4 linked regions of the Homo sapiens genome follow. The protein of the gene in region 3 interacts with the protein of the main gene of each other region in a pairwise test. Each region holds a gene or a part of one and is shown on either strand. Other genes may lie near its edges. The genes, in order: DEPDC1B, WDR6, GRIP1 and GRIPAP1.

The links.
Region 1: the proteins of GRIP1 (region 3) and DEPDC1B interact in a two-hybrid assay, tested with the Homo sapiens proteins (one study listed by BioGRID).
Region 2: the proteins of GRIP1 (region 3) and WDR6 interact in binary tests that used the Homo sapiens proteins (3 or more experiments, as listed by UniProt).
Region 4: the proteins of GRIP1 (region 3) and GRIPAP1 interact in a two-hybrid assay, tested with the Homo sapiens proteins (one study listed by BioGRID).

The regions. Positions count from the first base shown.
Region 1 is NC_000005.10:60,599,147-60,606,175, reverse strand, and holds part of DEPDC1B (DEP domain-containing protein 1B), read left to right. Parts: intron 1-319; coding exon 320-486; intron 487-2,608; coding exon 2,609-2,785; intron 2,786-6,915; coding exon 6,916-7,029.
Region 2 is NC_000003.12:49,010,387-49,016,476, forward strand, and holds the end of WDR6 (tRNA (34-2'-O)-methyltransferase regulator WDR6), read left to right. Parts: intron 1-1,034; exon of another isoform or gene 1,035-1,226; coding exon of another isoform or gene 1,227-1,248; coding exon 1,249-3,730; intron 3,731-3,823; coding exon 3,824-3,907; intron 3,908-3,996; coding exon 3,997-4,113; intron 4,114-4,191; coding exon of another isoform or gene 4,192-4,213; coding exon 4,214-4,332; intron 4,333-4,438; coding exon 4,439-4,902; 3' UTR 4,903-5,201; downstream 5,202-6,090. Other genes in the region: DALRD3 (DALR anticodon-binding domain-containing protein 3), read right to left, coding at 5,202-5,486, 5,587-5,700, 5,772-5,954, 6,043-6,090. UniProt on the Homo sapiens protein: Together with methyltransferase FTSJ1, methylates the 2'-O-ribose of nucleotides at position 34 of the tRNA anticodon loop of substrate tRNAs. Required for the correct positioning of the substrate tRNA for methylation.
Region 3 is NC_000012.12:66,669,048-66,676,076, forward strand, and holds part of GRIP1 (glutamate receptor-interacting protein 1), read right to left. Parts: intron 1-7,029. UniProt on the Homo sapiens protein: May play a role as a localized scaffold for the assembly of a multiprotein signaling complex and as mediator of the trafficking of its binding partners at specific subcellular location in neurons.
Region 4 is NC_000023.11:48,985,243-48,992,271, forward strand, and holds part of GRIPAP1 (GRIP1-associated protein 1), read right to left. Parts: intron 5,869-7,029; coding exon 5,684-5,868; intron 5,491-5,683; coding exon 5,443-5,490; intron 4,762-5,442; coding exon 4,730-4,761; intron 4,641-4,729; coding exon 4,593-4,640; intron 4,469-4,592; coding exon 4,369-4,468; intron 2,957-4,368; coding exon 2,879-2,956; intron 2,636-2,878; coding exon 2,543-2,635; intron 161-2,542; coding exon 26-160; intron 1-25. UniProt on the Homo sapiens protein: Regulates the endosomal recycling back to the neuronal plasma membrane, possibly by connecting early and late recycling endosomal domains and promoting segregation of recycling endosomes from early endosomal membranes.

The sequences.
Region 1 (7,029 bases), on a different chromosome or scaffold from region 3:
TGAGGGTTATGATAGTGTTAGCCTGGCTGCTCCTGGTTCGGGAAAGAGTGCTATGAAAATTGAGATATATCTGTCTAGTGTATGGGAGGAGAAAATGGCTGTATTTGGTTCTATATATTTGTCATGCCTGGTTGATGGTTTGTATTTTCTATAGTGATTTGTGAGTGACAATGGATCTATATTCAATTGACCCAGTATAGTTGAATATGTGAAAATATTTTATGTAATTTTACTAATATATATTTTGTTAAAATACAACCATATAGAATCTACTAGGCTATAGGTGTTGAAAGATAACATTTTTTTTTTTCTAAATCAGGTTTGTTACAGAAGGAGAAAGTGGCAGTTGAAGCATTTCAGATTTGCTGCCTTCTCCTACCTCCTGAAAATAGGAGAAAGTTACAGCTATTGATGAGGATGATGGCAAGGATTTGCTTAAACAAAGAGATGCCACCCCTGTGTGATGGCTTTGGTACCCGAACACTGGTAGGTTGATTTTTAACATCAGGTATGACTTTTTGGAATGAAAGTCGACTGAGTAAGGTGTATTAGTTTGGGTGATCAGAGGGAAGTACAAAGCAGACTTGCTTAAAAGAGCCACAGTCAGTGTCCACCCAGACTTGTGTCGTGCTTTTGTTCTAAGTGTCTTAAAGAACATAATGAGAAATGGAGACTTGAGTAGGGGCAGACTCTGTAGAGAGATCTGCTACATCCTGTTCTCCCACTTAAAATTATTTTAAATTTATTCTTAATTGACAACTAATAATTGCATATGTGATGTTTTAATTCATGTATACATTATAGAGTCAATCAAGCTAATTAACAGATTCATTACCATACCAACTTATCATTTTTTTGTAATGAGATCATTAAAAATCTATTCTTTTCTCAATTTTGAAATATACAATATATTATTATAATTGTCGTCACCGTGCTGTGCACTAGAGCATTAAGACTTGATCCTCCTGTCTCACTGGATCTTTGTACCCTTTGACCAACATCTATTTCCATGTCCCTGTATCCCCCAGCCTGTGGTACCTACCATCTAATCTCTGCTTCTATTGGCATATGTTTTTAAAGAGAGTTTATTTTAGAATTTACTTACTAGCAAAATCTCTTGATTTTCCTCAAAAAATGTCTTTGAGCAAAACTGGTGCTTCAGTGGAATGTATGTGCTTTCCATATCCTGTTAAAACACCGTGTACTCCCTGGGGATTCACTGGCCCAGTTTTAGAAGTAATAGAGTGAGATCAGAGGAGCACTTAGTGCCCAGTAGGATTCTTGATCTCTATATTTTTTTGGAGTGAGTGGATGGTTAGAGAGGCTAATAGACCTTTTTGAAAAGCTGAAGAAAACTTTATATCTATTCTGCATATAAAATACACATGCAAAACTTTGCATGCAGTTTCAAGGCGATCACAGAGTCCCTGGGGTCCATGGTCTCCAGGCAAAAAATTCTCTGCCTGTGTGTCTCTCTGTACATGTAAATGTAAGTGAAGATCATTTGCAGTGTGTTAATGAAGTGTTACTAAGCAGAATTACATGATTTTTTGCTTAAAGATTTTGAAGGAAGATTGTCAGCGATAAAAGTAGTAGGAAAAAACAAAACAAAACAAAAGCCAGTCCAAAGAACAGTATTAAGAATGGAGTAGTTAGGCTGGGCGTGGTGGCTCACTCCTGTAATCCCAGCACTTTGGGAGGCCGAGGCAGGTGGATCACCTGAGGTCAGGAGTTCTAGACCAGCCTGACCAACATGGTGAAACCCCGTCTCTATTAAAATTACAAAAATTAGCTGGGCATGGTGGCAGGCGCCTGTAATCCCAGCTACTCGGGAGGCTGGGGCAGGAGAATTGCTTGAACCTGGGAGGCGGAGGTTACAGTGAGCCAAGATCACACCATTGCACTCCAGCATAGGTTACAGAGCGAGACTCCGTAAAAAAAAAAAAAAAAAAAAAAAGAATAGTTAATTTCAATTCTATGGAAATTATTACATTGATGCTATAATATATTTTGCATTTCTGCTTGCCTCAAAGAGAGTCTCATCACTTAATGTACTTCTTGAAAAGTCCCATGGCTTTGTTCAAAGATGATTGTCAAATATACATCGAAAATCCTAGAGAAAATAAGCTAACTAGGAAAAGATGTAATGGTTGAGGCATGTGGACTGTGTTAGCGGTTTAAAACAAATCAATAATGAAATTAGGATAAATAATAATTGACTAAATGGCTATAAAGTGCTTTGAACTTAGTAGTGCTACATGATTCAAGTCATGGTGATAATGATTTTCAAAATTTGTTTTCATATATTTATATGTGTGTATGTGTGTGTATATATATATATATATATATGTATATTTAAAATCGTGTAAAAGGAGGTTTAAAAATTGCTCAGATAAGCATCTCTCTGCAGTCTCTTAACAGGAAGATGCACATTTTGTTTGTTCTGGTTGTTGAGACCGTCAACCCATCTGAGATGGCTGGGTACTCTTGGTAGAATATGCACCCTGTGCCTTAGACCATTTCTCATATTTGCCTTTTGCAAATTAGATTGCACTCAGTTCAGAAAAATACTCATCTGCGTTTACCCCCCACCCCGCTCTTTTTTTAGATGGTTCAGACATTTTCCCGTTGCATCTTGTGTTCCAAGGATGAAGTGGACTTGGATGAGTTATTAGCTGCTAGATTGGTAACGTTTCTGATGGACAATTACCAGGAAATTCTGAAAGTCCCTTTGGCCTTGCAGACCTCTATAGAGGAGCGTGTGGCTCATCTACGAAGAGTCCAGGTAAAGGAGAGGATATTATCAGTTCTATGAAATTGGCAATATAAAGTCACGTAAGCTTGCTAGGCTTCTTGGGGCATTTTATTATGAGGATTAAGTGAATTAATGTTTATAAAGTACTTACAACAGGTCTTGGCACATAGTAATCCCCTGCATGTGTTTGTATTATCATTGAAAAGTTTACAGAATGCACATTTGGTTTTGTGTATCAATCCATGTGGCATATTTTTTATTGCTAATTCCTTGAATGAGTTTGTTTAGAATCTACATACACCTACTGATGGAAATGATTTTATGTGCAGTAAGTGTCTTGATTCATAATTGCCCTGTGACCTAGTTTAATATTCCCACTTTTTGCATGAAAAAGCTAAGGCACAAAGAACTTAAATAACTTCGCTTAAGGCCACAGAGCCAGAATTCTGACTGTTGCAGTCAGCCTCTGTAATCAGTGCTCTAAACTATCATTCCATATTGCCTGTCTAAAAATCATAGTACAGTAGAAGAACACTGGCATGAGAGCCATGAATCCCTGGCCAAATTCCTAGCTGTATCCTTTCTGTCGTGTGACTCTGGGCAAGTCCCTTAACCGCTTTGGATTTTACTTTCTTTCCTCAGGCGTTAAAATGGGCTATTCTTTCTTTATAAAGTTGTGAAGATTAGAACACTGTACTTTACAATTCCTAGGATGAATTTCTGACATATGTCAGGTATTCTTTGAAAGGTAGCTGCTGCTGTTGTCATGGTGGTTATATAAAAACAATGCAAAAGAAATATAATATATTATTATCGTGTGGACCCCAAAGTGGGGTTTGTATGTCAGCCTGTGGGAGCAGAAACCTGGTAAAGGCAGGCAGAAGGTCCACTTGACTCCTTCTGACTGATTGGACCTCTTCTCATTTGAGATCTTTTTGAGGCACCACAATCAAGGACCAGTGAACTGCCTCCTTCTGAGGTATTACAAAAATAATTAATTGTCCAGCTGTTTCTAGAAGGCAATTTTAAAATTAAAATTTTTTCTATTTTTTTGCAATTATCAACCTAACACATTGAAGAAACTTGGGAAATATAGAAAAAACACACCAAAAAGTATCAGAGTTACACTAAAATGTTCATAGTCAGTAATATAGTCTTTCAGATTTTTTTTTCTGTGTCTGTCTGCTGTCTATGTCCATGCCTACCTTACTTTCTTCCCTCTCTCTTCCCTCCCCACCCTCCCTTCCTTCCTTCCCTCCTTCCCACCTTCCCTGCTTCCTTCTTGCCTGCCTCCCTTCCTGCCTGCCTCCCTTCCTGCCACTTACATTCTGTTAACAATGAGAAAAAAATTCCCCCATCATTAAATATTGTTGATTGGCATGAGAATGGCCAAGAGCACAGACTCAGGAGCCTTTGAATTCATGACATGCCTTTTGTTAGCTGTGTCACCTTAGGCAAATTATATAACATGTCTGTGCTTCAACATCTGTCCCAACATTTCTTTTTCTCATCTGTAAAATGGGAATAATAGTAGTTAATATTTACCTCATAGAGTTTTTCTGGGGAATTAAAACATGTGATTAAAATACATGTGGGCTTAATACATGTGAAATGCTCACAATAATGTTTATCACATTGTAAACCTACAATTAGTAGCTGCCTTTGTTGTTGGTATCATCATTATTGTTATATTATTCCATAATAATATTATTGGCAACATAGTATTCCATAATATGGATATACCATAATTTATTTAAATGATACTTTTTGGTTGGTATTTAGATTGTTTTCATGCTTTCCCCCATTTTGGAAGCAATATAGCAGTAAATATTTTTAAAGGTAGATTTTTTTTGGCTAATCTGTGATTATTTTTTAAGAATAAACTCCTAGGGGCAGCATTGCTTGGCCAAAGGCCATGAACATATTTTAAGTATCTATAGCATATTGCCAAATTTAGAATGATCATTTCAATTTACATTTCTGTCAGTGGTATAAGAGAGTGTTCATTTCTTTGCCCCTTTGCCTACTTTGGATATTATCATTAACACTTGTATATATCTTTGCCACTTGCATGGGTGAAAAGTGTAATTTTAACTGCTGTTTTAGTTTAATTTTTTCCTCTGATATTTTTATGAGCCAACCCTAAAGAAAATAAAAATGAACAGAAATACTTCACCAAGTTTCTGCAAGGAAATGTTATAGCAGTGTATTAGTCTGCTCTCATGCTGCTAATAAAGACATACCCAAGACTGGGTAATTTGTAAAGGAAAGAGGTTTCATTGACTCAGAGTTCAGCATGGCTGGGGAGGCCCCAGGAAACTTACAATCATGGCAGAAGGGGAAGCAAACACATCCTTCATGAGGCAGCAGGAGAGAGAAGCACCGAGCAAAAGGGAGAAAAGCCCCTCATAAAACCATCAGATCTCATGAGAACTCACTCACTATCATAAGAACAGCATGGGGGGAACCACCCTGTGATTCAGTTACCTCCCATCTCCCACAGCAAGGGGATTATGGGAACTACATTTCAAGATGAGATTTGGGTGAGGACACAGCCAAACAATATCAAGCAATAACTGTGTTGCCCTGTATACTTGCTAGGTTTGTGTATTCACATGCATAGCACAGGCATATATTGTAGTAACTTAGCCTTGTGAGCCCTTTGCTATTACTTGAAGTTCAGAAGGCTGAGCTATGGTGATTAATTTAACTGCAGGTAAACATGATCTTGTTAAGAGACACTGCAGTGTGCTCTGAATAAAATCAGTAGTGATTCATTTGTCCAGTTACCTTTTCTCTCTTGCAAGTACATATTAGAATTGCCAAGCACCTGTTCCATTCAGCCCTCAGAACCTATAGATCTTTGTTCTTTTGATTAGGCTCCTAAGCCTCTACACTGTATCACATTTAGGGGAGTGCTTCTCTGAAAATGCAGTGTTGCTTGGATTATTCCAGTGATTGTTTTAGGACAGTTTCAGGGCTGACCCTGGGATACATTATTAGGTAGGCAATGTTTTTGACACAAGCCTTCTATGATCCTCATCTGCAACCTTCTATTTCAAAGGACTCCAGGCTCTGAAATTAAATATTTTTAATGTATGTTCATTTATTCACAGGCCTTGGTTTCCTTTTTCCTCTTATTTCTCTCTTCTCCCTTATCCCTTCTGCAATGTCTGCACCTTTGTTGTTTTACTTGATTCTCATGGGTAAGATGTTAGGAAATGATTGTAGTACCCCTCTCTTCCTAAAAGCTTAGCTAAATGCATGCCACTACCATCCCCAAGGCATTGAGAATCACACTCTTCAGATGTGGGAATGCGCCTGGATAGTTCCAGTGGATATCCAACATTATCAATGTTTTGAATCATTTTAGTCAATGTGTTTAATTTATGCTTGAATTTCAGATCTTGTTAAAAGAGGGAATGCCGAGACCAGCTCGGTCGTGGAGACCCTAACCCAGTGGCCCTAGAGGAATTAAAGACACACACACACACACACACAAATATAGAATGTGGAGTGGGAAATCAGGGGTCTTACAGCCTTCAGAGCTGAGAGCTTTGAACAGAGATTTACCCACATATTTATTGACAGCAAGCCAGTCATAAGATTTACTAAAAGTATTCCTTATGGGAAATAAAGGGGTGGGTGAAATAAAGGGAAGAGCTCTGGCTAGTTATCTGCAGCATGAACATGTCTTTAAGGCACAGATCGCTCATGCTATTGTTTGTGGTTTAAGAATGCCTTAAGCGGTTTTCCGCCCTGGGTGGGCCAGGTGTTCCTTGCCCTCATTCCTGTAAACGGACAACCTTCCAGCATGGGCATCAAGGCCATCACGAGCATGTCACAGTGCTGCAGAGATTTTGTTTATGGCCAGTTTTGGGGCCTGTTCCCAACGAGGGCACAAGCTTTTTTTGTTATTGAAATGGCTCTTGGGTTTACAAAGGTAAAAATCCAATTTAAAACCGTGGCTTTAAATAATAATATTTTGAAGTTATGGAAATACTTTTACTTTTCAATATAGAGTTTCCCCCAATCAAATTTTGAGGACTAACATGGCATTGCTACGGTACAAGGAGATATCCTGTATTTGATCTAAACTAATTCTTATAATTTATTTGAAAATATGCTATATTCTTTCACTACTAATCCTTTTGCCTCAGATAAAATACCCAGGAGCTGATATGGATATCACTTTATCTGCTCCATCATTTTGCCGTCAAATTAGTCCAGAGGAATTTGAATATCAAAGATCATATGGCTCTCAGGAACCTCTG
Region 2 (6,090 bases), on a different chromosome or scaffold from region 3:
CAGAGTGAGACTTTGTCTCAAAAAAAAAAAAGAGTGACTGATGAGGGGGCCGGGCACAATGGCTCACGCCTGTAATCCCGGCACTTTGGGAGGCCAAGGTGGGTGGATCACCGCAGGTCAGGAGTTCGAGACCAGCGTGGCCAACATGGTGAAACCCTGTCTCTACTAAAAATATAAAAACTGGTCGGGCTTGGTGGCTCACGCCTATAATCCCAGCACTTTGGGAGGCTGAGGCGGGCAGATCACGAGGTCAGGAGATCGAGATCATCCTGGCTAACACGGTGAAACCCTGTCTCTATTAAAAATACAAAAAATTAGCCGGGCATGGGGGCAGGCCCCTGTAGTCCCAGCTACTCGGGAGGCTGAGGCAGGAGAATGGCCTGAACCCGGGAGGTGGAACTTGCAGTGAGCTGAGATCGTGCCACTGCACTCCAGCCTGGGCTACAGAGCAAGACTCCGTCTCAAAAAAAAAAAAAAAAAACTAGCCAGGTGTGGTGGTGGGCGCCTGTAATTCCAGCTACTTGGGAGGCTGAGGCAGGAGAGTTGCTTGAACCCAGGAGATGGAGGTTGCAGTGAGCTGCACGGTGCCACTGCACTCCAGCCTCAGCGACAGAATGAGACTCTGTCTCAAAAAAAAAAAGAATGACTGATGAGGGAAGCACAAAGTCAGCACTGAAAGTCCAGCTGAAGCTGAGACCAAGGATTTTCTTTTTTCTTTTTTTTTTTTTGAGTCTTTCGCCCAGGCTGGAGTGAAGTGGTATGATCTTGGCTCACTGCAACCTCCACCCGCTGGGTTCAAGCGATTCTCCTGCCTCAGCCTCCTGAGTAGCTGGGATTACAGGCACGTGCCACCACACCTGGCTAATTTTTTAGTAGAGATGGGGTTTTCACCTTGTTGGCCAGGCTAGTCCTGAACCCCTGACCTCAGGTGATTCATCCGCCTGGGCTTCCCAAAGTGCTAGGATTACAGGCGTGAGCCACCGTGCCTGGCCGAGACCAAGGATTTTCTTTTTTTTTTTTTTCTTTTGAGACAGAGTCTGGCTTTGGCTTTCCAAAGTGCCCAGATTACAGGCGTGAGCCACCGCACCCGGCCGAGACCAAGGATTTTCTAAGATTCAAGCTGCAGGATTGTGTGTCCTGATGCATTCATAGGCTACATGCCGAGAAGTTTCCCTGATCCCCATCTCTTCCCTGTGGGTCATCAGAGTTAGGTACCTAGCTCTGACATGGCTCTTTGCCTCTATCTAGGTGAGGGTCCCGATGTCCTGGTGTACAGCTTGGACTTTGGTGGGCATCTGCGGATGATAAAGCGAGTGCAGAACCTGCTTGGCCACTATCTTATCCATGGCTTCCGGGTACGGCCAGAGCCTAATGGAGACCTTGACTTGGAGGCCATGGTGGCTGTGTTTGGAAGCAAGGGACTCCGAGTTGTGAAAATTAGCTGGGGACAGGGCCACTTCTGGGAGCTTTGGCGCTCTGGCCTGTGGAACATGTCTGACTGGATTTGGGATGCACGCTGGCTTGAGGGAAATATAGCCTTGGCCCTGGGCCACAACTCAGTGGTGCTATATGACCCTGTAGTAGGGTGCATCCTGCAAGAGGTGCCCTGCACAGACAGGTGCACCCTCTCTTCAGCCTGCCTGATTGGAGACGCCTGGAAGGAGCTGACCATAGTGGCAGGTGCTGTTTCCAACCAGCTCTTGGTCTGGTACCCAGCAACTGCCTTAGCAGACAACAAACCTGTAGCACCTGACCGACGAATCAGTGGGCATGTGGGCATCATCTTCAGCATGTCATACCTGGAAAGCAAGGGATTGCTGGCTACAGCTTCAGAAGACCGAAGCGTTCGTATCTGGAAGGTGGGCGACCTGCGAGTGCCTGGGGGTCGGGTGCAGAATATTGGGCACTGCTTTGGGCACAGCGCCCGTGTGTGGCAGGTCAAGCTTCTAGAGAATTACCTTATCAGTGCAGGAGAGGATTGTGTCTGCTTGGTGTGGAGCCATGAAGGTGAGATCCTCCAGGCCTTTCGGGGACACCAGGGACGTGGGATCCGGGCCATAGCTGCCCATGAGAGGCAGGCCTGGGTGATCACTGGGGGTGATGACTCAGGCATTCGGCTGTGGCACTTGGTAGGGCGTGGGTACCGGGGATTGGGGGTCTCGGCTCTCTGCTTCAAGTCCCGTAGTAGGCCAGGTACACTCAAGGCTGTGACTCTGGCTGGCTCTTGGCGACTGCTGGCAGTGACTGATACAGGGGCCCTGTATCTCTATGACGTCGAGGTCAAGTGCTGGGAGCAGCTGCTAGAGGATAAACATTTCCAGTCCTACTGCCTGCTGGAGGCAGCTCCTGGTCCCGAGGGCTTCGGATTGTGTGCTATGGCCAATGGGGAAGGTCGTGTCAAGGTTGTCCCCATCAACACTCCAACTGCTGCTGTGGACCAGACCCTGTTTCCTGGGAAGGTGCACAGCTTGAGCTGGGCCCTGCGTGGTTATGAGGAGCTCCTGTTGCTGGCATCGGGCCCTGGCGGGGTAGTAGCTTGCCTAGAGATCTCAGCCGCACCCTCTGGCAAGGCCATCTTTGTCAAGGAACGTTGTCGGTACCTGCTGCCCCCAAGCAAGCAGAGATGGCACACATGCAGTGCCTTCCTACCCCCAGGTGACTTCCTGGTGTGTGGTGACCGCCGGGGCTCTGTGCTGCTATTCCCCTCCAGACCAGGTCTGCTCAAGGACCCTGGGGTGGGAGGCAAGGCTCGGGCTGGTGCTGGGGCACCTGTAGTGGGTAGTGGTAGTAGTGGGGGTGGGAATGCTTTCACTGGGTTGGGCCCAGTGTCTACCCTGCCCTCTCTGCACGGGAAGCAGGGTGTGACCTCAGTCACATGCCATGGTGGCTATGTGTATACCACAGGGCGTGATGGAGCCTACTACCAGCTGTTTGTACGAGACGGCCAGCTCCAGCCAGTCCTAAGGCAGAAGTCCTGTCGAGGCATGAACTGGCTAGCTGGGCTCCGTATAGTGCCCGATGGGAGCATGGTTATCCTGGGTTTCCATGCCAATGAGTTTGTGGTGTGGAACCCTCGGTCACACGAGAAGCTGCACATCGTCAACTGTGGTGGAGGGCACCGTTCGTGGGCATTCTCTGATACTGAGGCGGCCATGGCCTTTGCTTACCTCAAGGATGGGGATGTCATGCTGTACAGGGCTCTGGGTGGCTGCACCCGGCCACACGTGATTCTCCGGGAGGGTCTGCATGGCCGTGAGATCACTTGTGTAAAGCGTGTGGGCACCATTACCCTGGGGCCTGAATATGGAGTGCCCAGCTTCATGCAGCCTGATGACCTGGAGCCTGGCAGTGAGGGGCCCGACTTGACTGACATTGTGATCACATGTAGTGAGGACACTACTGTCTGTGTCCTAGCACTCCCTACAACCACAGGCTCAGCCCACGCACTCACAGCTGTTTGTAACCATATCTCCTCGGTACGTGCTGTGGCTGTGTGGGGCATTGGCACCCCAGGTGGCCCTCAGGATCCTCAGCCAGGCCTGACTGCCCATGTGGTGTCTGCGGGGGGGCGGGCTGAGATGCACTGCTTCAGCATCATGGTTACTCCGGACCCCAGCACCCCAAGCCGCCTCGCCTGCCATGTCATGCACCTTTCGTCCCACCGGCTAGATGAGTATTGGGACCGGCAACGCAATCGGCATCGGATGGTTAAGGTAGACCCAGAGACCAGGTAATATATGCTCCTGGGCAGGGTGTGGTATGGGTCATGCAGATGCTCCCAGGCTTGCAGGCTCCACCTGACAGCTGCATGTTGTCTCTGCAGGTACATGTCCCTTGCTGTGTGTGAACTTGACCAGCCCGGCCTTGGCCCCCTTGTGGCTGCAGCCTGTAGTGATGGGGCCGTAAGGTGAGAGCATAGGGCCCAGTGGGACAGGAGACAAAGGAAGTAAGGTTGTCTAGGATGCGTTCTGAGCTGGGCCACCCCCCGCCCCCCAGGCTCTTTCTTTTGCAGGATTCTGGGCGGATTCTGCAGCTCCTTGCTGAAACCTTCCACCATAAGCGATGTGTCCTCAAGGTCCACTCCTTTACACACGAGGCACCCAACCAGAGGCGGTGAGAGGGGCTGGATGATGGTCCTGCATGGGCTGGGTTGGGGGGTTCCTGTTGAGCTTCATCTCTGTTATTGACCAGGCTGTCTTTTCCTGGCTCTCAGGAGGCTCCTCCTGTGCAGCGCAGCTACTGATGGCAGCCTGGCTTTCTGGGATCTCACCACCATGCTAGACCATGACTCCACTGTCCTGGAGCCTCCAGTGGATCCTGGGCTTCCCTACCGTGAGTAGCTAATGTGCAACCATGGCTACCCCTCCTCACCTGTCACATAGCCCTCACACATGTGGCAGGCGGGGCCCTGACAACTACCCTCTTCCTCTTCCTTCAGGGCTTGGCACCCCCTCCCTGACTCTCCAGGCCCACAGCTGTGGTATCAACAGCCTGCACACCTTGCCCACCCGTGAGGGCCACCATCTCGTGGCCAGTGGCAGTGAAGATGGATCCCTCCATGTCTTCGTGCTTGCTGTGGAGATGCTACAGCTAGAAGAGGCTGTGGGAGAGGCTGGGCTGGTACCCCAGCTGCGTGTGCTAGAGGAATACTCTGTCCCCTGTGCACATGCTGCCCATGTGACAGGCCTCAAGATCCTAAGCCCAAGCATCATGGTCTCAGCCTCCATTGATCAACGGCTGACCTTCTGGCGTCTGGGGCATGGTGAACCCACCTTCATGAATAGCACTGTGTTCCATGTGCCTGATGTGGCTGACATGGACTGCTGGCCTGTGAGCCCTGAGTTTGGCCACCGTTGTGCCCTTGGGGGTCAGGGGCTTGAGGTTTACAACTGGTATGACTGAGGTATCCTGCGGTGGCTGGCGTGCTGGGCATGGGGCCTGCTCACAGACAGCATGGAGCAGGGATGGGCTGTCTGTGCCCATGCTCAGCATGCCTTGAGGGGAGGAGGTGGTGGCCGTGGGTTCCTGATGTCGGTGCAGGAGCTGAAGGTGAGTGGAGTGCTGCCAAGAATATGCCCGACTCCCCATGACAAGACAGAACTTTGTAACAAACAGTACCAATTTATTTTGGCCGTGGGTTTTTGCTTTTTTTCCAGTTGATGACTTTGTGAACATTCCCAGGTATTGGAGCCTCTGTGGCCTTAAATGTGGCTCAGTGGAGGGAGACCCAGCATAGCCAGGCCAGTATGGAGCACCTCACGCACAGCTCTCAGAAGCTGCAGGCGGACGAACATCTGACCAAAGAGGTGTGGTCGAGGCTCCTGAAAGAGAAAGGGCCTGCTGGTCTCATCCTCTGCTTCCTTTGCCTTTACCCTATACCTCTCTGCACGTCCCACCCCATTTTGCTGTGTGCTCACCCCCAGGATGTGTACCCGGTTGTAGTAGGAGCTGAAATCCATGCTGAGCTGTACCAGGAACTTGCATATCTAGAGACAGAGACTGAGTCACTGGCCCATCTCTTTGCTCTTGTGCCCCAGGCCAGAATAAAGAATAGAGTGTAGAGTGTCCTGGTTGTCTATGCCTCACCATCTCTGTGCGTACAGCAATGTGGAGCCCCGGGGCTGTGCAGTCCAGCACTGCTGTCCGGCTCAGCAGATCCGGAAAGGGGAGGATACTGTTGAAGAGCAACAACCACTCACCCTGTTGGGGAGAAAGGTGCTGGGAGGGGAAGTCCAGGCCTCCTTGTGCCAGCTACCAGGAGGGACACTCACCTCATCATGTAGCAGTGAGAAGTCCAGACTGCTCACAGGAGGAAAAGTGGGGTACAGACCTTGTTCCATACTACACTTGTAACTCTCAAAGAGTGTGGCAAGACGGGCACAATTATACATGACAAAGGTGCCACTCTTTGTGCCCTTCGTGGAGATACTGCTGTCAGCCAGAGCCAGGAAGAGCTGGGGAATAGAAGCACAGCTGCAGAGAGAGAAGGCAGCCACCACACCCTGTGCCCCAACACTGGCCCTGTCAGGCTCCCAGGCTCACCTGACTCTGTGGGGCTGTGCTCAGCATCTCAAACTTGATGGTGGCCAC
Region 3 (7,029 bases):
AGGCATTATCTGAAACACTCCAAGCCCAAAACAAATGTGTGGGATTGGTTAAGCCCGGAGATCTTTAAAAATTGACATCATTTGGCCAGGCATGGTGGCTCACACCTGTAATCCCAGCACTTTGGGAGGCCAAGGTGGGCAGATCACTTGGGGTCAGGAGTTTGAGACCAGCCGGGCCAAAATACAACAAATTAGCCAGGTGTGGTGATGGGTGCCTGTAATCCCAGCTACTCGGGAGGCTGAGGCAAGAGAATCACTTGAACCCAGGAGGCGGAGGCTGCAGTGAGCTGAGATCGTGCCACTGCACTGCAGCCTGGGTGACAGAGTGAGACTCTGTCTCAATAAATAAATAAATAAATAAATAAATATTAACATTATCCATTCGACAGATACTTATTGGGCATTTTCTTTGTACCAAATACTTTGTACTTGCCAGTGACATAATGGTAAGTAAAGCATGGATACTAATTTTCAAGGAATTCATAGTCTGATGGTTGTATACAGATAAACAAAGAATTATCATCAAATGTAGAAAGCATAATGAAAGCCATCTATACAGGTTTATGAATACACAGAGCAGGAGTACCTATTCAGTGGTGTGCTGGTAAATGTTTAACAAGTGGCTTTGTCGGGGCATGCCTTGATTTATAGCATCCATCAATGTCTCTGGTGTAAATACTCCCACTATGGCCAATTTCAGTCTACCAACTTGATGTCATTGAATGTGGAGTTGCTAAGAGATGTGTGGCACACCATTATAGAGTAGCTCTCCCACATAGATAGAGTAGACTTCAAGAGCACAGAACATAAAATGTAGTAATGATTAGAAAATGATGAATTGTTAGTATTCATTACCTCCGTTTTTAATATCATTTAATTGCAAATTTATATAATTTTAAATGATTGTGTTTACAAGCTAGTTCAAAAAATTCTTTAACATTTAACAATTGGCTCCATAGAAGATGACTTTAACCAATGAAGTCTACTCTTCATTGTGGGCTAGGGCAACAGACTTTCTGCACCATACAAATGAGGGTGAACTCCTTTGCATGAGTAGCTATGTCCATTAGCATTGAAAGAAGACAAGTAACAGAAGAGAAGAGGGAGCAATGAGAAGAGCTGAGATGCTCAGAACATTGCACCGCATACAACCAAAGCAGAAAACTTTATAACCCTGCCTTTCAACTATTTTCTCCATATAATAACCTTCCGCATAAGGGGAGAAGAAAGGGAGAGATCAGTTAGCCCTTAGGTCCCTAAATAGTAAGGACAAAAAATCACATGAAAATTACAATATTCATTTCCATCCCCATGGAACATTCCTTCCAGTCTATGCTGATGTGGACTGCCAAGGAGGGCAGACTTGAAGACTTAACAAAATGATCCACTGGAAATCCTACGTTAGCAGTGGCGCTCATAACTTCATACAGGACTGCAGGCTCAGATTTGCAGGGGTGTTCACACAGTTCTGTGGAATGAGAGCAACTCAGGAGTGGACTCAGCAAATGGTTGAGTCAACTGTCATTTTTAAACTATGTCTTCAAAACTCTCACCAAAATGTATACACACAAATGCGTTATAACCTGTATCAGGCCTCTTTTGATTGCAAATAACAGAAAGACCTGGCTCTAATGGGCTTAGGTGTTAAAGACATTTAATGGCTAACTTAACTGAAGAAGTCTAAGGGAGAGCTCAGAGCTCCCTTAAGGTAGTTCTTGAGCAGGGGCTGAAGTGATGACAGTCAGATATGGTGTCTCTTTCTTTTGGATCCACTGCCATTTTCAGACAGGCTCTGCCCTCAAAGTCACAGGAAGGCTATAGCAGTTTCATAGCCCTTATATCTGCTCAGCTTCTCCCTTCTAGCAGCTGAGTAAAATTCCTGGGCTTGTCTCTGGCTGAAACATATCTAGTAGCATCTCTATGAAGCTGCCAGTACGTTAGGTCCATGGCTCCCAAACTCAGCTAACACAGTAAAGTCACCTGGGGAATGTGTTAAAATGCCAAAGAACAGGCCACACTTCCAGGCAATTAAATCACAATCTCTGGGGTTGGATCCAGGCAACATTATTTTCTTAAGGTTACAAGGTAATTCCAATGGAGAGAAAAATTTAGAAACCCCTGAATTGGGTGCTCATAAAAATAGGAGATTTTAGACTCATCTTCTGATTTACTAAGAAAGTCAAGTTTGATTAATTTCCTTAATGTCCACCTCAAAGTCTTTCTTCCTATGCTTTCCTGTCTCTGTGACAAGAGTGTCCCTCTTGCTCACTCTAGCTGGCTGCCATCTGTCTCGTGGTCTCACACTCACACTGTCTTGCCTGGTTCTAGAGTTCATCCCTCTTCTAGTTTGCATCTTGAAATTTTACCTCCCTACTGGTTCTATCCTTTTAAAAAATGCTCAGATTTCTCCCATCCTATAATAGCCTTCCTTATCCCCCATGACCCCGCCCTCCACCCCCACAGGCTGCTGCCCATCTACAGCCTAACTTTCACCTTCAGACTTCTTAAAAGAGTGGTCTGCCCTTGTTGCCTTTAATGCAGAGAATCCTTATAATCTGGTTTGGACATCAATACCCTGTGAAAACTGTTCTCTCAAAGGTCAGCAATGACCCACTTACAAAACAGAAGGGCTGCTTCTCGCCTCTCCTTCTCTCATCTTTGCTTTGGTTTTTAGATATTACGGTATCCAAACGCTATTTCTCCCACTGTTTTTCTCTCTGCCACCTCTATTAGCTTAAGAAAGCCTTGGGGAAAATGTGTGGGACGTGTATCCTAAACACATTTCTCAGACAATATGTATCAGAAGACTTGAAAGTGAAGATACATGAAGGCAACAATTTAAAGCACAAAATAAATTCTTTAAAGACAATTCAGTATCATGTATTAGACTGAAAACTGGGAAACAAACTAAAGATATATTATCCACATAAGGAAATACTACAGAGACAGTAACAGTTTCCTATGACAAGTGTGTGCTAATGTGCACAAATGGGCAGAATATTAGGAAGAAGATGTAAGACAAAACATGTATTATACATATAATTTCAACTTATTAAAAAGCATAATAATTTGTAAATCAATTTGTTTTCCTCCATTGGTTTCCATTATTATGATGACAACATATCTTTAGTGATATTTAGTTTTACCTTTTCTCCTAATTCATCTGTTTTGAAAATGAATAGAAATTTCCTTAGTACAAATGTAACTTATTGTATTCTTCATATATTCAGCTATTTAATAATGTAGTTGGAATTATTAGTAAGAAGCTCTTTCTCACTTTCTAATACCCCGAGCTTTGCCTGAATTTAGGTGGTCATCATTGACTGAGACATCCAAGACCACTGCTTTTATTGCTTTTTGTAATGGCAAGGTCAAAGTTTCCTTGGTTTGAAGGGTGCAGTAACATCCTTTAAGGAGCTACATGTAATAAATATCTGGGTGCATTTTTTTTTTGGATATATGCGATACTGAAACAAATAATTATTTTAAAAATCTGCAAATAAGATTTTCTTCTGTATATTTAATAAAGCAGCAGTTACTAATTTTAAATTTAACATAATTCTCATGTATATGGGCAAAAAAGTGGTAAGAAACTAAAAGAGAGAAAAAGATGAGTTTCAAACACTGACGGCTTGCCTATCCCTAGAAACTATGTATTTTGCCTCCTCTCAAATAGTGGGAAGTTATCAAATTATATATTTTCCGCCAGAATAAAGTGAATTTACTAATATAAGAATTTCAAATAAATCAACTGTAGTAGAAAATTAAATCATTTTGTTATAGCTAACATGAGTATAAAACAGTTTTCACAAGTAATTTTTAATTTACAGATTAAGAAACTGAAATTTAGTGGGGGAAATTCAGTTTTTTTGTTTGTTTGTTTTTGCCACACAAGTAAAAATAGGAAAGCTAGGAAAGGTTGACATATCTTCTAATTTCTAAGTCTATTCTATTTCCCCTACCATAAGGAATGCTGAGAGATTAGTGTGGTGTTGTCTTGATTAATTTCTCTTTATTATTCTAGATAGGCAGGTCTATGGTTTCTATCCGTTTCTAGAAGAGAAAAAAAATGGCAAAAATGAAACACTGGGGTTCCTCCTGTCCTCCACTTGTGATCTTAGGAATGATTCTTAACTTCTCTGAACCTCTTCTTTTTCATCTGTATGGTGGGGATAATGACGATAATATTGCAAGATTTAAATGAGTTAGTACATGTAAAATGTTTAGAATAGTACCTGGCAGAAAGTAAGTGCTCAATAAATGTTAGCTATCCTTATTTCCATTCTTCCTCCTAAACATTTCCCAAAAGTATATAAGTTAATCGATTAGAATGCCTATCCTACATTGGCCCTCCTTTTCCCAGTAATGAACCAGATATTTCTTCCTAACCTGCTACAATCATATAAGAAGGGTGTAGACTCCTTCTTGTTTATATGGGGTCATACAAGGCATAGCCAAAATTTCCTCTGGAGGATGGGTACCTCCTGGAACGAGGTAAAGTATTTCTAGCATCCAATTCCCATTTGGAAGACAGGGGAGAAATAAATGCGCCATTATGATAATTCTAACTAGTTATATAAACGAAAAGCTTCAGTCCAGTGGAGAGTAAAGCGGTCCAAGCCACTGTTCAATGTAAACTCCCTCAAAGCATGGGCTAGAAGCACAGCAAGAAATCCATCACAATCTGGACCACGAGCAGCACTTGCGCGAGAACAAGACCTGCCTGGGACCCAGCTGCAGCATTCTCCTGTTCAAGTGGGGTCTCTCTATTTGCAAGAGAAATATGCCCCATGCCCTAGCAATAGATGAAACTCCAATAAAACAAGACAGACTTACTTTGTGAAATATCTATTAAGTGCATATTATTTTAAAAAGTTGATAGGCTAGAAAGATAAATACGTTAAATGCACTAGCTTTGATGGCATGAAATGAAGGGGTGGAGGCAAAGCAGAAAGGACATGGTTGCAGGTGAGATTTGGAAAGGGGTGGAAAGTTAACGAGGTGGAGGATACAGTTAAGTTGTTCCAGATGGCAGGATCTGACAGAGAAGGCCAGCGAGGGTTAGCAGAATGGATGAGGATGGGGAGACAGGAGAAATGAGGTCCAGCACAGAGAGAGAGAGCATTCTCAACCCAGATGATGATCAGTTCTGAATCATATCACAGAGTGGATGAGGAATCATTAGAGAAGACTGCTGAAGGAACCACAAGGCTAGACACAGACAGATGGGAAAGAGCAAAGTGACCAGAACAGAAAATCCAAGGCCACCAGCAAAGGAGCCATCAGGTTTGGAACACTGATACTGAACTCTGTGATGGATTCAGAATTCCTTGGATTAAAAGATTCTGCAGATGAGAAAAGATGGGAAATATTTTTCCTCTTCCATTAAGACAAAACATTTAAATGTGTTTCTTTAATTAAGATTACACTTAGGAAATGAGTTTCTAAATAGAAGAACTTTTAAACACAGGATGAGTGTCAGAGTTTAAAGGGATTTAGACGTCACCTGAGTAATCCATTAAAAGTTTATCAGACAAACTGTGAGATTGTTCTTGTCAGAGAGAATTGAGAATAAGATTACTGGTTGTCTGAGATGGTTGAGTTTCAGTTCTCTCTGGAAACAAGTCCTAGACGAATGTCTGACCTTCCCTTTCAAGCATAATGATTCCATGATTGGGGTAAGTGTAAGGAACAATGACTGAAAAAATGAGAGTGAGTGTGATCACAACCCAGCCTTTTAATCTTGCTCAGTGCCAGTGGAGAGAGCAATACCCATACATGCCCAGACAGCAGAAAAGGAGAAAAGATACTGAGGTTGGGAGGAGAAATCAGGAAGAAGAGAGGGAGAGAGAAAGAAAGTAGAATGCACAGCAGGGAGCAGTTCCCTGCCAGCCACAGATGTCTCACTTAGACACCCCATTGGGATGAAGGTCAACGGGGCTGCTTATAGTTTGTTAGTGGGAAAGGGACAGGGAGAGTTAATTCTATTTTAGGCCATATGTGTATTTGGGAAGAGAGAGAAAGTGAAGATAAGTAGAAAATAAAATGACACGTAGGCCAGCTATGATGAAAAATGTTGAAGTCTATACTAAAGTGAAGGCAAAGGTTTCCGACATGAGCTTTGAGCCAGTAGAGAAAAGACAGAGAGAGAGGGTGGGTGGCAGCAAAACAATGAAAGGTGCCCAGAGCCGTGCTCCCTGTGGAATGTCAGTAAATATTAATTGGCTGATGTTGGCATTGGTAGGCAGAGTGAAGCTTGTGAAAGAAAAATGCCATTGCCAGTGGAGCACGAAAGTTCAGATCTCGGAGCTCAAAATGGCAGCACCTGAGCAAGCAGCAGAGTCACATCCCATATCACCAGAGAAAGTGATTCTCTGCATATGAGGCCAAACTGTCTCAAGGAAAAGTAATCACACAATCATGACAAGAGAAAAAGAACAAAGTCTGTGGGAGCCATGAAAATATCTCCCCTTCTCTGAGAACATACTCCCTTCCCCTGAGGTATGGTAGCCCCTAGCTGAGAAACCAGGGCTGTCCCAGGTAAACAGCTGTGAAGGTAGGTGCCAAGAAGCCTAGATTTACCCACTCCAGAAAACCCTTTTGTCAGATGTCTCTGGAAACCTCACAAAATGTTATTTTGGGATTTGGCTCTAAGGTTGGGTAATTGGTAGACTCTCATTCTGGAGGAAGAAAAGAACGGCATTGCTTCTTTAGATTTCAATATTAGATGGGAAACGGAATGCTTTTGACGGTGCTTGGTGTTTTCATGAACCAAAGTTCCTCTCATAATGGCAGGCATGGGCCTTTTGGGTAAAGGTTATTTTCTTGCTCTTGTTCTACATTGGTAGGTACCTGATAAGGCAAAATGATTGAAACAGTGGCTTGAAACATTAATAAGAAAATGACTCAATTCCCAAGTCAGAGAAGTGCTAAGTTTACCTGAAATATATTCTACTATAATACTGTGGATCAGTGTCTATGTGGAGTGATCCAAGGACTTGTCTAGAAATACATGTTTTATACATCTTT
Region 4 (7,029 bases), on a different chromosome or scaffold from region 3:
GACAGGCCAGAGCCAAAGGTGTTACCTGGAGCTGGGAGTTGAGGTCATCTTTCTGTCCCATAAGGTCCTCGTACTCAGCCTGCTGCTGCTGCAACTCAGCTGCCAGCCCAGTGGTCTGTTCCCGGAGCATATTCAGTTCTTGGGTCTTTGCTGTTTGGATCTGGAGAAAGTAGTGGTGATGAGAAGTAGAGTGAAAGGGACCCCAGGGGCCAGGGACAGGGTATGAGCCCCCTAGTTCCAGGGAAACAGGGAGGGAGGTGGGAAGAGAACCAGGAAGAGAGAGGAAATTTCAAACAGAAAAACAATGAAGAGAATGGGTAAATGTGGTATGTTCATACAATGGAATACCACACAACAGTAAGAGAACAGATCTGTGCTGCCACGTGGATAAACTTACATAGTGCTGCCAGAAAGAAGTCAGAGACAAAGAGCAGCTGATTCCATTTATATGAAGTTAAAGAACAAGCGAAATGAATCTTATGTTGCTAGAGATCAGAATAATGGTTACTTCTGGGGGAGTACTGACTTTGAAGGGGTAAAGGGGACCTTCTGGGGTACTAAAAGTGCTTTATACTTTGATCTGGGTGGTGGCTATGGTGGCGGGGAGAGAGAGAGAAAAAAAAGAGAGAGACGAAGAGAGGATTCACTGAGTGTACACTTAAGATTAGTACATTTCATGCACTTTACTAGAGAGAAACTAGAAACAAAGAAAAGCAGAAGCCGGGCGCGGTGGCTCATGCCTGTAATCCCAGCACTCTGGGAGGCCGAGGCGGGTGGATCATGAGGTCAGGAGTTCGAGACCAGCCTGGCCAAGATGGTGAAACCCCGTCTCTACTAAAAATACAAAAATTAGCTGGGCATGGTGGCACACGGCTGTAGTCCCAGCTATTTGGGAGGGCTGAGGCAGGAGAATCGCTTGAACCTGGGAGGCGGAGGTTGCAGTGAGCCGAGATCGTGCCATAGCACTCCAGCCTGGACAACAAGACCGAAACTCCGTCTACAAAAAAAAAAAAAAGCAGAGATAGGCCAAGCACAGTGGCTCACACCTATAATCCCAGCACTTTGGAAGGCCGAGGTGGGAAGATAGCTTGAGGCCAGAAGTTTAAGCCAGTCTGGGTAACATAGTGAGACCCTGTCTCTACAAAATAATTTTGTTTTCTCTTTTTTGAGATGGAGTCTCACTCTGTCACCCAGGCTGGGGTGCAGTGGCACAATCTCGGCTCACTATAACCTCCACCTCCCAGGTTCAAGCAATTCTCCTGCCTCAGCCTCCCGAGTAGCTGGGATTACAGGTGTGCGCCACCATGCCCAGCTATTTTTTTTTGTATTTTTAGTAGAGACGGGGTTTCACCATATTGGCCAGGCTGGTCTCGAACTCCGAACCCCAGGTGATCCGCCCGTCTCAGCCTTCCAAAGTGCTGGGATTATAGGCGTGAGCCACTGCGCCTGGCCTAATTTTTGTATTTTTAGTAGAGACAAGGTTTTGCCATGTTGGCTAGGCTGGTCTCAAACTCCTGATGTCAGGTGATCCGCCCACCTCTGCCTCCCAAAGTGCTGGGATTACAGGTGTGAGCCATCATGCCCGGCCAATAAGTTTTTTTTCGTTTTGTTTTTTGTTTTTTTGAGACAGAGTTTCACTCTTGTTGCCCAGGCTTGAGTGCAATGGCACGATCTCGGCTCACCGCACACTCCACCTCCTGGGCTCAAGCAATTCTCCCACCTCAGCCTCCCGAGTAGCTTGGATTACAGGTGCCCACCACCACACCCAGCTAATTTTGTATTTTTAGTAGAGACGGGGTTTCTCTATGTTGGTCAGGCTGGTCTCGAACTCCTGACCTCAGGTGATCCGCCCTCCTCGGCCTCCCAAAGTGCTAGGATTACAGAATTGAGCCACCATGCCCGGCTTTTTTTTTTTTTTTTTTTTTAGACGGAGTCTCGCTCTGTTGCCCAGGCTGGAGTGCAATGGCACGATCTCGGCTTACTGCAACCTCCGCCTCCTGGGTTCAAGAGATTCTCCTGTCTCAGCCTCCCGAGTAGCTGGGATTACAGGCACACACCGCCACACCCAGCTAATTTTTTGTATTTTAGTAGAGATGGGGTTTCACCGTGTTGCCCAGGCTGGTCTTGAACTGAGCTCAGGCCATCCACACATCTTTGGCCTCCCAAAGTGCTAGGATTACAGGCATGAGCCACCACGCCCTTTTTTTTTTTTTTTTTTTTTTGAGACAGAGTATTGCTCTGTCGCCCAGGCTGGAGTACAGTGGTGCGATCTCGGCTCACTGAAACCTCTGCCTCCTGGGTCCTGGTTCAAGCAATTCTCCTGCCTCAGCCTCCCCAATAAAATTTTTAAAAGTTAAAAAAAAAAAAAAGTAGGGATGGATGGCCAGAGAGAAGAGGGCTGGACGCCAACAGAAAGGAGCAACAGAAACAAAGACAGGAGAACAGCATGGGGTCCAGACCACCCTACCCTGATGTGGACCAGAAGCAGATGGAGATGGGGGAACTGGAGAGGGATCAGCAAGGGCCCCCAGGTGTTCTTTACCTGCTCCAGGGCAGCCAGGCTAGTCCTCAAGGCATTGTTCTCAGCCAAAAGCCCTTCCACTTGTTCCTGTGCATCTGCACTCTGGATGGATACCTGGCCCCACGTCCACAGCAGGTGAGAGTGGGTCCAGAACAGGGGGACAGGACCTACCCACGACCAAGAAAGAAAGGACACACACACACACACACACACACACACACACACACACACACACACACACACACACGAAGGCCTGGGGGAAGCAGGATCCCTGGGACCTTGCCTGACTATGTAGTACCCACTCAGGCTGCCCCCATCCTGAACCCCAGCTCCCTGAGCCCACGCAGTACAATATACCTGATCTTGTAGGGCCCGCAAAGCTGCTGCATGTTCCAGGCGCTCCCCCTGCCGCTGATCTCTCAGCTCTGCCAAGCTCTGTGGAGACCAGGGGAGCCCATTTTACACCTCAGCCTCTCCTGGGGTGCATATAACCGTACAGACTCTCTGTTTGACCACCCAGCAGCATGTTCTCAGCACCTGTGGGTCTCAGACTATCCAGCCAACAGCAATCTCAGGTTCACCCAGACGCCAGGTCACTACCCTCAGGGGCCTCAGACACAGTCAACCCCTCTATCCCAGCGTACAAGATCTCAGGCACGACTAGACTCCTGGCCCTAGCTGCTACGCGGTTCAAACTCACTCAGCTCCCATCCATAAGAAGTCTCATGCTCACCCAGATTCTAGCTTGGGAGCTCCAGGATTCTCAGACACAGTCAGCCCCATGGATCTCAGATGTAGTCAGCACCCAAGGATGACAGTTTCACCCAGCCTCCCAATCCCAACCACCAGGGGTTTCAGACACACTCATCTCCCACGTCCCTACTTCCCAGGTGAGATCCACCCAAACTCATAGTCCCAGATCCTAGAGGTCTCAAACTCACAACCTCCTAGTTTCCAGGTCCTGGTGAACTCTCAGACTGACCCCTTCACCTGTCACTCTGCTCCCCAGTCTCTTGGAATCTTCAGACCCAGTTAACCACCAGTTCCTGGGGGTCTCAGCTTTACCCAGACTCCCGTCTCAGACCCCATGTTCCCAGTTTCTAGGGACTTCAGAACCACAAGCCACCATATCCTCCATTCCAAGGGACCTCAGACTCACCTTTTCTAGAAGGAAACCCAGAGGCTTCAGAACCATCCAGCCCCCAGTCCTCAGGAGCCTCAGACCCACCTAAACTTCTGCTCCAGCCCCTGGAGGTCTCAGACTGACCAGCTTTTTGTTCACAGCCCTCAAGGATCTCAGGACTACCTAGCCCATATGATCCCACTTCCTAGGTGTCTTAGGCCCAAGCCAGCGCCCAGATCCTGAGGATCTCAAATGCACTCAGCCTTCAGCCCCAACTATCTCACCCTTGAAAGTTGTATATCTACCCAGCCATGTCCTCAGCCCTTGGGAGTCCCAAATTTACTGACATCCCAGCCCCTAAAGATTTCAAAGTCACCCAGCACCCAGGGAGTTCAGACTTACCCCAGTTCCTGGTCCTAGGCCCTAGTGACCACAGATTCATCCAGACTGTGGTCTCAAACCTCCAGGAGTTTCAGATTTACACAAACTTATAGCACACAGCCCCCTAAGTCCTTAGCCCCCTGAGATCTTACACTCATGAAGACTCCTATAACAATTCCTAGGGCTCTCCAATTCCCATTTTCCTAGCTCCTGGGGGGCCCCAGAACCCATTTCCAACACAGGAAATCTCAGACTCCCCAGCCAGCCTCCATGGACCTCAGACCTCTCCAGGCTCCCAGTCCTGGCCCCTACCCCAGGGATCTCAGAACCCAGTCCCCATCACCTGATTGGCAGCCTCAAGTTCCTGCTGCAGCTTCTGGGTTCGAGCCAACTGGGCTTTGTGATCAGCTTCCTTCCGTTGTTGTAATTCCTCAATCTTGTTCCTAGGAGTGATGGGGAGGGGGTGTGTTGGACATGGCTTGAGGCCCAGTCTCCTAGCTCTGCCCCTGTAATCTTCACTGGGCACTGTCCCAATTGTCCACCAATACCCGCAAATCTGGCAGTTACCTGCTGTCATTAAACAGAGTCTCCTTTTCTGTCTGCAGACGGCAAAAACTGGGCACAGAAGGACAGATGTAGATGGGTCAGTTCCGTAAGTTAATTCCCCCCTCGGCCCCCAGTACCCTTGGGAAAAAGAAATTTACCTTTCTTGTTTCTTTTTCAGTTTCTCGGAGAGCTGGGGAGAGAGGTACAGACAAGTGATAACATTGAGAATAATATAAAGACAAACCTAAAATTAATAAATATAGACACTTCTTATTAAGTCATTTTTGGAAGCCAGGATTTACTTATGTTGTCTTGTGGAATCCTCAAAATAGCCCTGACAAGTGAGTAGTACCAGTTTTACAAATGGGGAAACAGAGTCTTGGAAAGGTTAAGTAATTTGGTTGCTCAGCGGGTCAGCAACAACAATATTATCTCCACCCAGATCCTTCAGGTTCCAAAGCCCGGTATTTATGCTCCCAACATAGTGGCCAATGGCCATGTTATAGATTGGCTAGGCTGGGAGGCCTGGAAAGCAGGATATCATGACTGGGTGCCGCACCCCTGGGTCTCCAGGTCCTAAGATAAGAGCCAGGAGTCTGTAAATGCTTGCATGAATGAATGAATGAGTGAATGGGCAAAGCTGAGAGATGGATGGGATGAAACTTATCATGCACAAGATATAGTGGGACCACATTAACTCATTCCATACTGAAAGTAACTCTGAGACATAGGTGTGAGTCTCTCCATTTCACAGATGATGAAACCTAGGCTTTGATGGGGTACAATGCCCCTTCTGCCCTAGGATTGGGAATGGAATGGGAAAGAATCCAGCAGATTGGGAGCAGAATGGGAAAGAGCCAAGCAGCCGCACCTTAGCAAGTTCCTCCTGCAGCCTGGATGTTTCGGCCTGCTTTGAGCTCTGCAGGGAAGGATGAGGGATGGGAGGGTTGTTGTTAGCAAGGACAAGGAGAAGCCTTCCCCTGCCCTCCTGCCTCCCTCACCCCATCAGCCCACAAGATGGTGATGTCACAGCCATCTCCGTGGGACTATAGACAGAGGTAGAACATCTGCCCTGCCTTCTGGCATTCCAGCTCCAACAGACTCAGATTCACCTCTAAGCCTTGCAGCTGTTCCCAGAGCAATCTCTTCTCCTCTTTCTCCATTTCCCATTTCAGCTCCACCTCTGCCAACGGCATGGGGGCCAGGACGGTGGGGGCCAGGCCCCCTGGGGGATCCCCCTGGCCCTCACTGACAGCTGAGAACTTCCCGGCTTCTTTCCCATAGCGTTCCTGCAGGGCTGGTGAGTAGAACAGGGATATATGATGGATGAGGTGGTCTCTGAAGTCCCTTGCCATGCCTCGAATAGAGGGAGAACTGGCCTTCAACCCCTCAGGTGGCAGAGTCCCTGTGCCAAATGACCACATGCCTAAAAGACGAAGGTTCAGCTCTATCCATGCCTCTCACATTTTTTTCTTTTTTTTTTTGAGACAGGGACTTGCTCTGTCACCCAGGCTGGAGTGCACTGGAATGATCACAGTTCACTGCAACCTTGACCTCCTGGGCTCAAGTGATTCTCCCACCTCACTCTCCCAAGTAGCTGGGATCAGAGGTGTGTGCCATCATGCCGGGCTAATTTTTTGATTTTTTTGTAGAGACAAGGTCTCGCTACATTGCCCAGACTGGTCTTGAACTCCTGAGCTCAAGCAATCCTCCCACCTCAGCCTCCCCCAAAAATCTTTTTCCGTGGCTGGGCACGGTGGCTCACGCCTGTATCCCAGCACTTTGGGAGGCCAAGGCAGGTGGATCATGAGGTCAGGAGTTCAAGACCAGCCTGACCAATATGGTGAAACCCCGTCTCTACTAAAAATACAAAAATTAGCTGGGCGTGGTGGCGCACGCGCTTGTAATCCCAGCTACTCGTGGGGCTGAGGCAGGAGAATCGCTTGAACCCAGGAGGCAGAGGTTGCAGTGAGCCGCGATCGAGCCATTGCACTCCAGCCTGGGTGACAGAGTGAGACTCCGTCTCAAAAAAATCTTTTTCCCTAGACAGTCTTGCTCTGTTGCCCAGGCTGGTGTGCAGTGGTGCAATCATAGCTCACTGCAACCTCAAACTCCTGGGCTCAAGCGATCCTCCCAAGTAGCTGGGACTACAAGTGCACACCATGCCCAGTTAATTTTATTTTATTATTTATTTATTTGTTTATTTTCTTGAGACTGAGTCTTTCTCTGTCACCCAGGCTGGAGTACAGTGGTGTGATCTCGGCTCACTGCAACCTCTGCCTCCCAGGTTCAAGTGATTCTCCTGCCTCAGCCTCCCAAGTAGCTGGAATTACAGGCATTTGCCATCAAACCTGGCTAATTATTGTATTTTTAATAGAAATGGGGTTTTGCCATGTTGGCCAGGCTGGTCTTGAACTCCTGACCTCAGGCGATCTGCCCACCTTGGCCTCCCAAAGTG